Linked DNA regions of Homo sapiens: region 2 is reported to be linked to region 1. The links are microRNA targets in miRTarBase. Many come from high-throughput screens and were not tested one by one. Region 1 holds a microRNA gene; the other region holds the end of a gene's coding sequence.

Region 1 (5,301 bases):
TCCCTGGCGCTGACACGTCAGGCAACTGAGGCACAAGGCTGGCATTTCTGAACCTTGCCCCTCTGCAAACACAAGGGGGCGATGGTGGCACTCCAAGCAAAGGGGCGTGTGGGTGCTGCAGGAGGAGCACAGAGCACTGGCGCCCCTCCCCTCCCGCCCTGCAGATGCCGGAGGCCCCGCCTCTGCTGTTGGCAGCTGTGTTGCTGGGCCTGGTGCTGCTGGTGGTGCTGCTGCTGCTTCTGAGGCACTGGGGCTGGGGCCTGTGCCTTATCGGCTGGAACGAGTTCATCCTGCAGCCCATCCACAACCTGCTCATGGGTGACACCAAGGAGCAGCGCATCCTGAACCACGTGCTGCAGCATGCGGAGCCCGGGAACGCACAGAGCGTGCTGGAGGCCATTGACACCTACTGCGAGCAGAAGGAGTGGGCCATGAACGTGGGCGACAAGAAAGGTGGGGTCCGGGCCAGCAGGTGCTCAGCTCTGGGACAGGGACCCAGGACCAGGCATCAAAGCCCTTACAGGAGAAGCTGTTATCACCCCATTTCCAGGGGGCTGGGAACCCTGGGATATGCCCAGATAGGGCTGGGGGGCTCCTCTGGAGTCCCAGGGTGCCAGGGTCCCTGATGACCCCTGCAGGCCCTGCTGCCTGCTGCCCCAGGACAACAGGCCCCCACACTCACAGGGTCTGACGGTGGTGCAGTTCCCCTTGAACTCTGTTCTGGCCACCATGGGACCTGCCTGGGGACCAGTCAGACAGGTTCTCCTGGGCCCGCCTCCCGCTTGAACTTCAGCCTGGGGCACAGGATGTGTTACCGGGCTCACGGAGTGACTCAGGGAACTAGTGCCGCCCCAGGGCCCCAAGGTGGGCGGTTCGGTGATTCAGAGAGGGCAGCTCTGTGTTAGGACACACTGGGGCCAGCCAGGAAGGGTGGAAAAGATAGGGACCAGCGTGAGCATAGAGGCTAAGGGACCATGGGAGCTCCAAGCGCGCTCACAGTGGGGACCAGGTCCTGGGGGCTGGGGACACCAGGGAGGTGAAATACCCCTCCAGCGGGTAGGGAGGGTGGGCAGAGGAGGGCCAGCGGCCAGGCATTTGGGAGGGGCTCCTGCTCTTTGGGAGAGGTGGGGGGCCGTGCCTGGGGATCCAAGTTCCCCTCTCTCCACCTGTGCTCACCTCTCCTCCGTCCCCAACCCTGCACAGGCAAGATCGTGGACGCCGTGATTCAGGAGCACCAGCCCTCCGTGCTGCTGGAGCTGGGGGCCTACTGTGGCTACTCAGCTGTGCGCATGGCCCGCCTGCTGTCACCAGGGGCGAGGCTCATCACCATCGAGATCAACCCCGACTGTGCCGCCATCACCCAGCGGATGGTGGATTTCGCTGGCGTGAAGGACAAGGTGTGCATGCCTGACCCGTTGTCAGACCTGGAAAAAGGGCCGGCTGTGGGCAGGGAGGGCATGCGCACTTTGTCCTCCCCACCAGGTGTTCACACCACGTTCACTGAAAACCCACTATCACCAGGCCCCTCAGTGCTTCCCAGCCTGGGGCTGAGGAAAGACCCCCCCAGCAGCTCAGTGAGGGTCTCACAGCTCTGGGTAAACTGCCAAGGTGGCACCAGGAGGGGCAGGGACAGAGTGGGGCCTTGTCATCCCAGAACCCTAAAGAAAACTGATGAATGCTTGTATGGGTGTGTAAAGATGGCCTCCTGTCTGTGTGGGCGTGGGCACTGACAGGCGCTGTTGTATAGGTGTGTAGGGATGGCCTCCTGTCTGTGAGGACGTGGGCACTGACAGGCGCTGTTCCAGGTCACCCTTGTGGTTGGAGCGTCCCAGGACATCATCCCCCAGCTGAAGAAGAAGTATGATGTGGACACACTGGACATGGTCTTCCTCGACCACTGGAAGGACCGGTACCTGCCGGACACGCTTCTCTTGGAGGTGAGCCCCAACCAGGATGGCATCCGTGCCAGCTGCTGCCCAGAGCCCATTCAGTCAGCCTCAGCCTCTCCAAAGAGCCAGGCATTCCAGTAGAGCCCTGTGTGGACACAGCTCGCTCTGGAGGCACCACCTGAGGTCTGGGAGTGTGGGGGACTGAGGAGGCCCTGTGGTGGGTGGAGATGGGTGGGGAGCTGGGCCAGGGGCCTGGCTGGGTGGCCTGTTGGGAACTGGGGAGCCAGCTGCCTGTGCAGGTGCAAAATGGGTGGCAGAAGTGGGGTGCACACCCCAGACCAGACACCAGGGCAGAAACGGCACAGGACCAAGGAGATGGGGTGGGGAAGGGCCGCTCTGGGCCCAGCCTGCTCTCCCCCAAGCAAGCCACTGCTCGTGCAAAGAAAGCATGTGTCTCCTGCAGATCTTCCTCCTGAGGCCCCATCTTGTGCATTCCCCCAACCCAGCCCCACTGGCGAGGACCCTGAGTGCCCCGAGTGAGGCTAGACAGCGGGTGGGGCTGTCCTCGCTTCCCTGGGGGGCGTGGGGCACTGGTGGCCCTTCACAGACTGATGCTTAAGGAGCCTCACATCAGTGACACACTGCCCCATCCCTCCCTGGTGGTCAGCGACACTGAGTGGCTCTGTGATCCTCCACTGGGCTTGGGACACCCACCCTCACGGCCTCCCCACCTGGTGCTCGCTCACCTGCAGCTCTCCCAGAAACTGGACACTGCTGTTAGCAGCCGGACTAGGAGCACGAGGGGCACAGCCCCCATGCCTGGCTAGGTAGGGCCGCTGGACCCTGGACACGGATTGGAAGGAACCAGCACTAGCAGAAGCCTGAGGTGTGAAAGGGCAGAGAATGTTCCAGGAACAATGGGAGTCAGGGCACACAGGACTTTGGGCAGGTGAGGATGAGGTTAGACCTGTCTTCTGGAGCTGGGCTCAGGGGCTCATGCCTGTAACCCTTGCACTTTGGGAGGCTACGGCAGGAGGAGCGCTTGAGGCCAGGAGAGTTCGAGACCAGCCTGGGCAACATGGCAAAAGAAAAAATATATATATATATTTTAGATGGAGTCTTGCTCTGTCACCAGGCTGGAGTGCAGTGGCACGATCACGGCTCACTGCAACCTCCACCTCTTGGGTTCAAGCGATTACCCTGCCTTAGCCTCCTGAGTAGCTGGGACTACAGGCGCGCGCTGCCACACCCGGCTAGTTTTTTGTAGTTTAGTAGAGATGGGGTTTCACCACATTGGCCAGGATGGTCTCAATATCCTGACTTCGTGATCCGCCCGCCTCGGCCTCCCAAAGTGCTGGGATTACAGGCGTGAGCCACTGCGTCCGGCCGTATTCCAGCTTTCAAAACAACAAAAAACAACAAAAACTTTTCTGGAAAGATCCCTGTCAGCCTTGTGGAGTGTGGAGAGGGCTGTGGGGAGGGCATTTCAGATGCCCTGAACTCACGAGGAGGCACTGAACCCTGGCCGTGGAGAGGGAGGACCTGTAGTGGCCAAGGGGGTGGGCATTGGGAGGGTGGGAGGGAGACCTACAGGCCAAGACAGGGTAGCTGGAGGGGGGCTCACCCCTGACAAAGGAGCATGATGCTGGCAATTGGGTATTGATGGCAGAGAGCTGGCACTCAGCCAGATGGGCTTCACTTGGGCAGGAAAGACACCCACAGCTGGGCCTGCGTTACTGCGGCCGAGTTTCAGCAGCTGTGATGTGGGTGCTAATTACAGGGGCCTGCCTTCATAGAAAAGTAGCAAACATTGCAGTTTAGTAACTAGGAAACTAATAGTTTTCTCAGTGCTGCTTGCGCAAAGCTGGTAATTATCTCAAAAGAAGCAAAGTCATGAAGTGGGAAGTCATGAATTGGGAATGGGTGTCCTTGTTAAACGCACATCTGCACACTCAGGGCTGGGGCCCTGTGCCCCCTTGTGGAGGGTTAGGGGACAACCTGGCTCTTGTGAGGGTCTAGCCATCCCCTCAGTGGGTTCTGTGAGCATCGGAGGCACGAGGGGTGAGGGGCTCAGGAGCAGGTTGCAATTCAAAATCAAGGGCTGCTTTGAGGAGGCCTCTCCACCGGGCTGCTGTAGTCACCAAGTCCAGCCCATGCCCAAAGGAAGAGGAATGAGTTCCCCCTTAAAAAAAAAAAAAAAAAAAGAAAAAGACAGAGTCTTGCTCTGTGCCCAGGCTGGAGTGCAGTGATGACATCATAGCTCACTGTAGCCTCAAACTCCTGAGCTCCAGTGATCCTCCCACCTCAGCCTCCTGAGTAGCTAGGACTAAAGGCATGCACCACTACACCTGGCTAATTTAAAAATTTTTTGTAGAAATGGGGTCTCCCTATGTTGCCCAGACTGGTCTCAAACTCCTGGCCTCAAGCGATCCTCTTGCCTCAACCTCCCAAAGTGCTGGGAGTACAGGTGTGTGCTTGGTCTGAGGCTCCAACTTTTTGTTGTTGTTTCTCGAGACAGTCTCTCGCTCTGTCGCCCAGGCTGGAGTGCAGTGGCGCGATCTTGGCTCCCTGCAACCTCTGTGAGGCTCCAACTCTTGAAGGGAGGAGAGTCTAAGGAGGGTGGGCCAGATGAAAACCACCTCAGCATAGTGTCACCTGCTCCTCTGACACTGTCGCTTCTCCACGGCATTAGATTTTCAGTCCTGCTCAGACGCTGATGCATGTTTAGCCAGTTCTCCAGGTGGTCTGAGTAGCTGGTAGGAGGCTTGCAGTGTCGGGCGACAGGCAGGACAGGTGCTGCCTTCTTTCCCCTCTTGACCAGTTTCGTAAAGGAGTGGGCCCCTGGCAGCCTCCAAAGGTGACCCATGCTCCTTTCTGCCCTTCCCTCCTTCTTTCCTGTTTAACTCGTGCAGGTGCAGTGGTCTGGTGTCTTTCAGTCCGCTGACGTCTTCTGTATCCCTGATGACCAGATTGGGCTCCTGAGTCCCCTGGCGCAACCCGAGAAGTCCAGGAGCCCAGGCCCCTCACTCATGCATTCCCTGGCCCAGACTGGAAGGCAGCCGCCCTGCTCAAGGCCTAGGCCATTGTCCTCCTCCCGGGTGGCGCTTTGTTCTACGTCTTTTCAGCTGACATTGCTAGGACATTTTTTTTTTTTTCTAAATGAAAACACATCATGATTCATGGTGGTACTTCCTGCTCAACTCCGGACCTTGGGGCTGTCCCCTGACCTCACTGACCTTGCAGCCGTGTGGTGTCCATACTGTCACATGAAAGCCCCCTGCTTTCTCTGCAGCATACAGGCTGGAAACGACCGCCACCCACCACCAGGACAGCTGCAAGCCCTGTGGGACTCTCCAGGCCCATCCCAGAGGCATGTGGGGTCGGATACCAGTGTTTCAAGGCACCTGCCTGC
Region 2 (5,373 bases), not on the chromosome of region 1:
TGTCAGACACTTAATTGAGCAACAATTCAAGTGGAAAATGTGCTGAGAATTCTCAAAAGAGAGCTGTGAGTAAGGATACAAAAGGGAATCCATTATTGTGTGTACCTTTTCTCATTTTTCTTTAATTAAAAAAATAAAATGTACCAGTCAGATGTGCTACATCACACATTACCTCAACTCTCTGAAGTTGGAGCATCCCTACCTCTCACTGAACCTACTGACCCCCTGAAGGATGAGGGAACTTTAGCCTGGATTTCAAACAACCACCGTTAACTCAAGTTTGACACTGTACAGTAGTTTCACGGTATCCCAGAAACAATGTAAGCCGCTATGGGTGGCTGGTGGTGGGAGACAGGTAAAATTGGATTTTTTTCCCTTTGCTCATATAATCTGAAGACTATAGAATGTAGTTTTTAAAGGTCAGAACGAATTGCTAATTAAGTGGAGGCATTTGAAATTAGCAAATAAAATTGCTACTCAGAATAGTGACTAAGGAGTAATTAATCATAAGGGGAAAATGGAAGCGCAGTTCAGCCAGCAGTAAAATCATCTTTTAACTAGTTACCATAGAGCCTTCAGATGGTGTTACTAAGAAACTGTTAGATATTAATTTCATTCTTTTCTCTTTAGGCTATATCATTTAAAAAAATAGTACTCAACATTTTTCTATGAAGACACAAATCAAGTTGGTCTGCACAGTCTCTCTTGCAGGTATTTAGAAATATGTGGACTAGCTATGATTTCCCTTTACCTTTCACTCAACATTGGAATGAAGTAAGGATTACATTATCATAGTCTTCACTTTAAATCCAGTCTACTTTTTATATAACTCATTGATGAATCTTGGCATTTTAATTATTAGAACACAGAATTACTTAATATACTCCTCAAACCAATGCTGAGACTCCCTCCTTTCCTTCTTTTAAAATACTTTTTTAGTTTGTTTGTTTGTTTGTTTGTTTTGAGACAGAGTCTTGCTCTGTCACACAGGCTGAAGTACAATGGCGCAACCTCGGTTCACTGCAACCTCGGTTCACTGCAACCTCCGCATCCTGGATTCAAGCGATTCTCCTGCCTCTGCCTCTGGAGCAGCTGGGATTAAAGGCATGCACCACTACAGCCAGTTAGTTTTTGTATTTTTAGTGGAGATGGGGTTTCACCATGTTGATCATGCTAGTCTTGAACTCCTGACCTAAAGAGATCTGCCAGCCTCAGCCTCCCAAAGTACGGGGATTACAGGCGTGAGCCACTGCGCCCAGTCAAAAATGCCTTCTAAAAACATTTTGGTTTGGTTTCCAGGTGCTTTTTGTTTCCCTAGGTGCTATATCTGCCAGTCTTGGGTTAGATGCTCTCAACCCATGCTAGGATTCCATTTCACATCAAAATTTTTATATCTTAAATTTAAAGCCAAATTTACAAACATGAATATTACAATCAAATATTCAGACAGTTGATTTGACATGCACATCTTAAACTAGAAAACAAATTAAGGCAGGATTTATACAGAGATCCATATTTTTAAGCACTTGATATTTATTAATTAGCGAATCCACACCAGAATCCTATGAGGTAGCCTAGCTTGTCTTTATTATAAATAAATTAGGTAGAAGCCAGAAAAAAAAAAAAAAGGCTATCTCCACAATAATATGTTGATTGGACCCTCCTTATTCTGGTCACAAAAGAAAAACAGTTCCTCATATAAGTGGGTCAAGTGAACAATGAATATTTTGTTTGGATGGAATATAGAGAGAGTATAGTTATTTTATTACCTGGCAGTTTAAAAAGGTAATTTTCTTAGTGGGGCTTTAATATTCTGTGTTCACACTGACTTGTCAGAAATTTCCGACTCAAAATATCAGCTTTGGAAGAGTTAGAATGCCCCCACACTCCACCCCCAGCCCCAACCAGAAGGCTCAAATTTTCCTATGGGAGTTTTAGTATTTTTCATGTATCTTAAATTTTTCATCCTTTGGTCTGGTTGACCTAATAAACTCATGTCAATAAAAAAGTGTAAAGACTCTTTCAGTTCCAATTTATGCTTATATATGTCGTCTAACAGGCAAGTGAAACACAAATCCTATTTGTCTTTGTAGTCAAGCAATTGCGGATGAGAGTTTTATTACTACCTTTATCAGCCAAAGGAATCACTGTAGTCCCCTTTACTTAGCAGATTACTTTATGACTATATTTATTAGTTCACTGGGCTTGGAGACTAAATTTAATGAAGACTCATTAATTTGGGTTTCACTACCGTGGCGTTTGTGGCCTCTGGCACAGGTGCTAGCCTGAAGCTTACCTCTGTACTGACGGAGAAAAACTTTTTGCAAAGTAAATTAACTGCATGACCAAGACTATAGGAGTGTTTTATCTTCTTAAGAAGACAATTTCAACCACGTAACCACTAACCTTTTAAATACAAATAATTTTACTCTGATATAGTATAAGGAGTCCATTAAGCTTGTGTGTTATGTTAATTTTGAATAATTTTTCCCTCACTGCAGCAAAACTTTAAATGGGCAGTATTTGGTTAGTTTAGTTAACATTATTATAAAAACTCTGGAACAGTAAAAATACTTTAAATATTGATAATTTGAATAGCTTCACTCTTTCAAATATATGGGTTCTTTCCTAGGTCCTTTTAATTAACATTTTACAGAAAATCACTTGACTCATGTTCTCAGCTGGCCCGGAGTCTCTGCTGGGACCACGTGTCAGCAGCTCCGGGTGGACTGGACGTAAGACAGGGACACACCTGGGTCTGTGTGGGTCTCTTTCCTCTCCTTCAGAATTGATTTGGTTATTTGAAAACATTTACCTTCCATCCCACTCCCATCCACTCATAAAAAAATGGGAAGGTAAGATATGACTTAGCTGAACAAACACAACCACAGCAAACCAAACAGAAAAGACAACCACAAACAGCTAGCTTCCCAAGTAGGAATCTTTCCATTCCAGAATTCCCAAAATATAAACAACATTAGCAGCCCCTTCCTGCCTAAAACTAAATATGTCATCTCCAGGGTACACTAGAATGATAATTTCCACTATCTGCATGGGCAAAAATAAAGAAATTTGAAAACAAACAAACACACAAAACCTCTGGCAGGGTATTCACTTGCATTTGACAGGTTGCCAAGGAGCAATGGTATTTAGATGAGGAATTCTGAAATAATCTGATTATTATGGCCGGAAGATTATCTATAAAGGGTTTGGCATAGCCTCTCTGTAAAGTAAAAGAAATCTATGTTCATAGACTTTTCTATATTAGGTTATTTTAAATACACACACACACACACACACACACACACACACAGCACTTTAGGGCATAAGCTCACTCACTAAACCCAAACTGAAACAGTGTTTTGTTGTTGCTGCTGTTTTTACTCGGACAATGCTTATTTTACAGCGGAATTGACAAATAAAGCCTTATTTTACACATCCGAAGAAACACCATCACAGGAGGTTTGTAGGTCGGCTGTGTGCTTTCCAAAACAGCAAAATAGATTCTTCCCATCCAACCCCCTTTCCTCTTGTAGAGTAGGGTGTGGCTCGTGGGGCTTCGTCTCTCTGCAGGCACAGAAACTGGCAGACCTGGTCCCTCCTGAGCGGGCCCTGCTCAAGGGAATGGTGCCAGATTTTGAACACAGGTAAACAGGCTCCTTCATAACAACACTGTGCATTTCTGTGTCATTTTGTTTATTGCTCACTGAGTTGTTGCCACCTCAGCTCTTGGTGGAAAACAGTGGGTGTCCAGAAATTGCTGACACAAGAAGATGGATTGCCTATGGTCGTTAGGGACACAGGGCAGCCCCAGCCAGATCCCAGCTGGTCCATGCAGGGCATCGTCAGTAGAAGCTCAACGTCCCACTTCGTAACCAGGCTACAAGACACCAAGTCCGGTCACCATGGAAAAGAATTAAACCTAGAGAAAGAGCCTCATGATCTGCACTCAGACGCTCCCCATCAGAAAGGAACTGTTTTCTTTATCGGTCATGCTCTTTCCAGAGTGACTGAGTCTTGGCTCAGCAGTAGGACTTCAGTGAGAAACAGAAGAAATAGGGGACCCCGCCTAGCCCAAGGCCGCCATTTCTTCAGAATTTTCTCACTTCTTTCCAAACGATCAGTATCCCCCAATTAAAGCCCACAGTTCAGGCCAAACATCATAAAAAAAAATACTTGTTTATTTCCATCTCATTCTGGGGTTTATAATTCTTCTTTTGGATGCTTTTGGGGAAAAAAATTCACCAAGGTCAAGGGCTGTGAAGACGTTTTTGCCTAAGAAGATCATCATGCAGGCAGACTAATTCTTTTCCTAAGCTATTATTTGGCAACTTGCAAGGAGGACTTGGCTTAACCTTGAGAAACTGTTCTTTGAATGATCAGGAAAAAAGATGAGAATTCTTCCTTTATTTACTCCCTTCGTCTTCATTGTTCAGATGGTAAACCTGGCTCCTGTGCTTGGAGAACGGAGAAAACGACTGGTATTTATTTGTCCATTTGGTATTTTCCACTAATAGTGATCTGTTCCAGTTCTGTGCATGTCACCCTCAACTGTGTCCAACATGATGAGAAAAGAATGTATATTTCTGGATAGAGGTGGTTTACATCACACTCATTGAGGATTTAACAGAATAATTATGCTCTGAGGAAATCTAGAATAAATTGGAAATTTAAATTTTTCCACTTTCAGTTTGAATAATGCTCCAACTGTTTGCTATAGGATTATAATTTAGAACATGTGCTAAATATGTTATCAGGAAAGAATTTAAAAATCCATCCAAATATCATAACTTACCCCAAAATTAAAAAAAGGAAAAAGAAAAAAGAAACCTCATTCATTTCCAAAAATCAAGATCAGTCGTATGTGAATCTGTGAATCCTTATAAGAAATGTTTATTGTTCAAGAAAGAAGCCTCCTCTGGTGGTTGATAAGCAATTCTCCACGGCAGAGAAATGCTAATGTTTTGTTCTTATGTCTTGATTGATGCTTTCACTACTTATTCTTCAGGCTATAAGACAGAAGGAAACACAGTGTTACCTTCTTTCATAATTACAAATTCCAACACCTCTTTCTCCCCCCCACCCCCTGTCTCTCTTCTACTTCTCATATTACCTTAACCATCAAATTCAAATGCATCTGAATTTGTAAAGTTAATCTTTCAGGTTCTAAATAACCTGTATATATAAAATATCTCCATTACTAATGCCATCTCCACATACGTACAAGAAAATGTATAGCTCTACATTGTCAATCCAGACACTAAATTCATTCCAAATGTTTTTAAATAAAAATAATGAATTGATTTTTATTTATGGCATGCTGCATACACCCATCTTTAAGTTTCAGGTATAACTACATGCAGAACCCTCTTG

The links. The annotated mature microRNA hsa-miR-4761-3p reads GAGGGCAUGCGCACUUUGUCC and lies in region 1 at 1,452-1,472, shown strand. An mRNA with a match to its seed (bases 2 to 7 or 8) in the 3' UTR can be bound and repressed. Matches are read on the target gene's strand: a 7mer-m8 pairs with bases 2 to 8, a 7mer-A1 pairs with bases 2 to 7 and ends in A, and an 8mer does both.
Region 2: miRTarBase lists ZMAT4 as a target of hsa-miR-4761-3p. Seed matches in the 3' UTR shown: 7mer-m8 at 3,837-3,843.

The regions. Positions count from the first base shown.
Region 1 is chr22:19,962,363-19,967,663 of GRCh38, forward strand. It overlaps MIR4761 (microRNA 4761), which reads left to right and starts at 1,391; the gene lies at 1,391-1,472. COMT (catechol-O-methyltransferase) reads left to right here. Exons shown (of 6, transcript NM_000754.4): 3 at 165-453; 4 at 1,204-1,397; 5 at 1,806-1,937. The coding sequence starts at 165. It also overlaps a transcript of ARVCF not described here. RefSeq lists enhancers at 1-447, 448-1,163, 1,164-1,879.
Region 2 is chr8:40,527,230-40,532,602 of GRCh38, forward strand. It overlaps ZMAT4 (zinc finger matrin-type 4), which reads right to left. Exons shown (of 7, transcript NM_024645.3): 7 at 3,361-5,009. The coding sequence ends at 4,994. Among named protein-coding and RNA genes, the nearest start is that of SIRLNT, 190 kb to the left of the region's middle.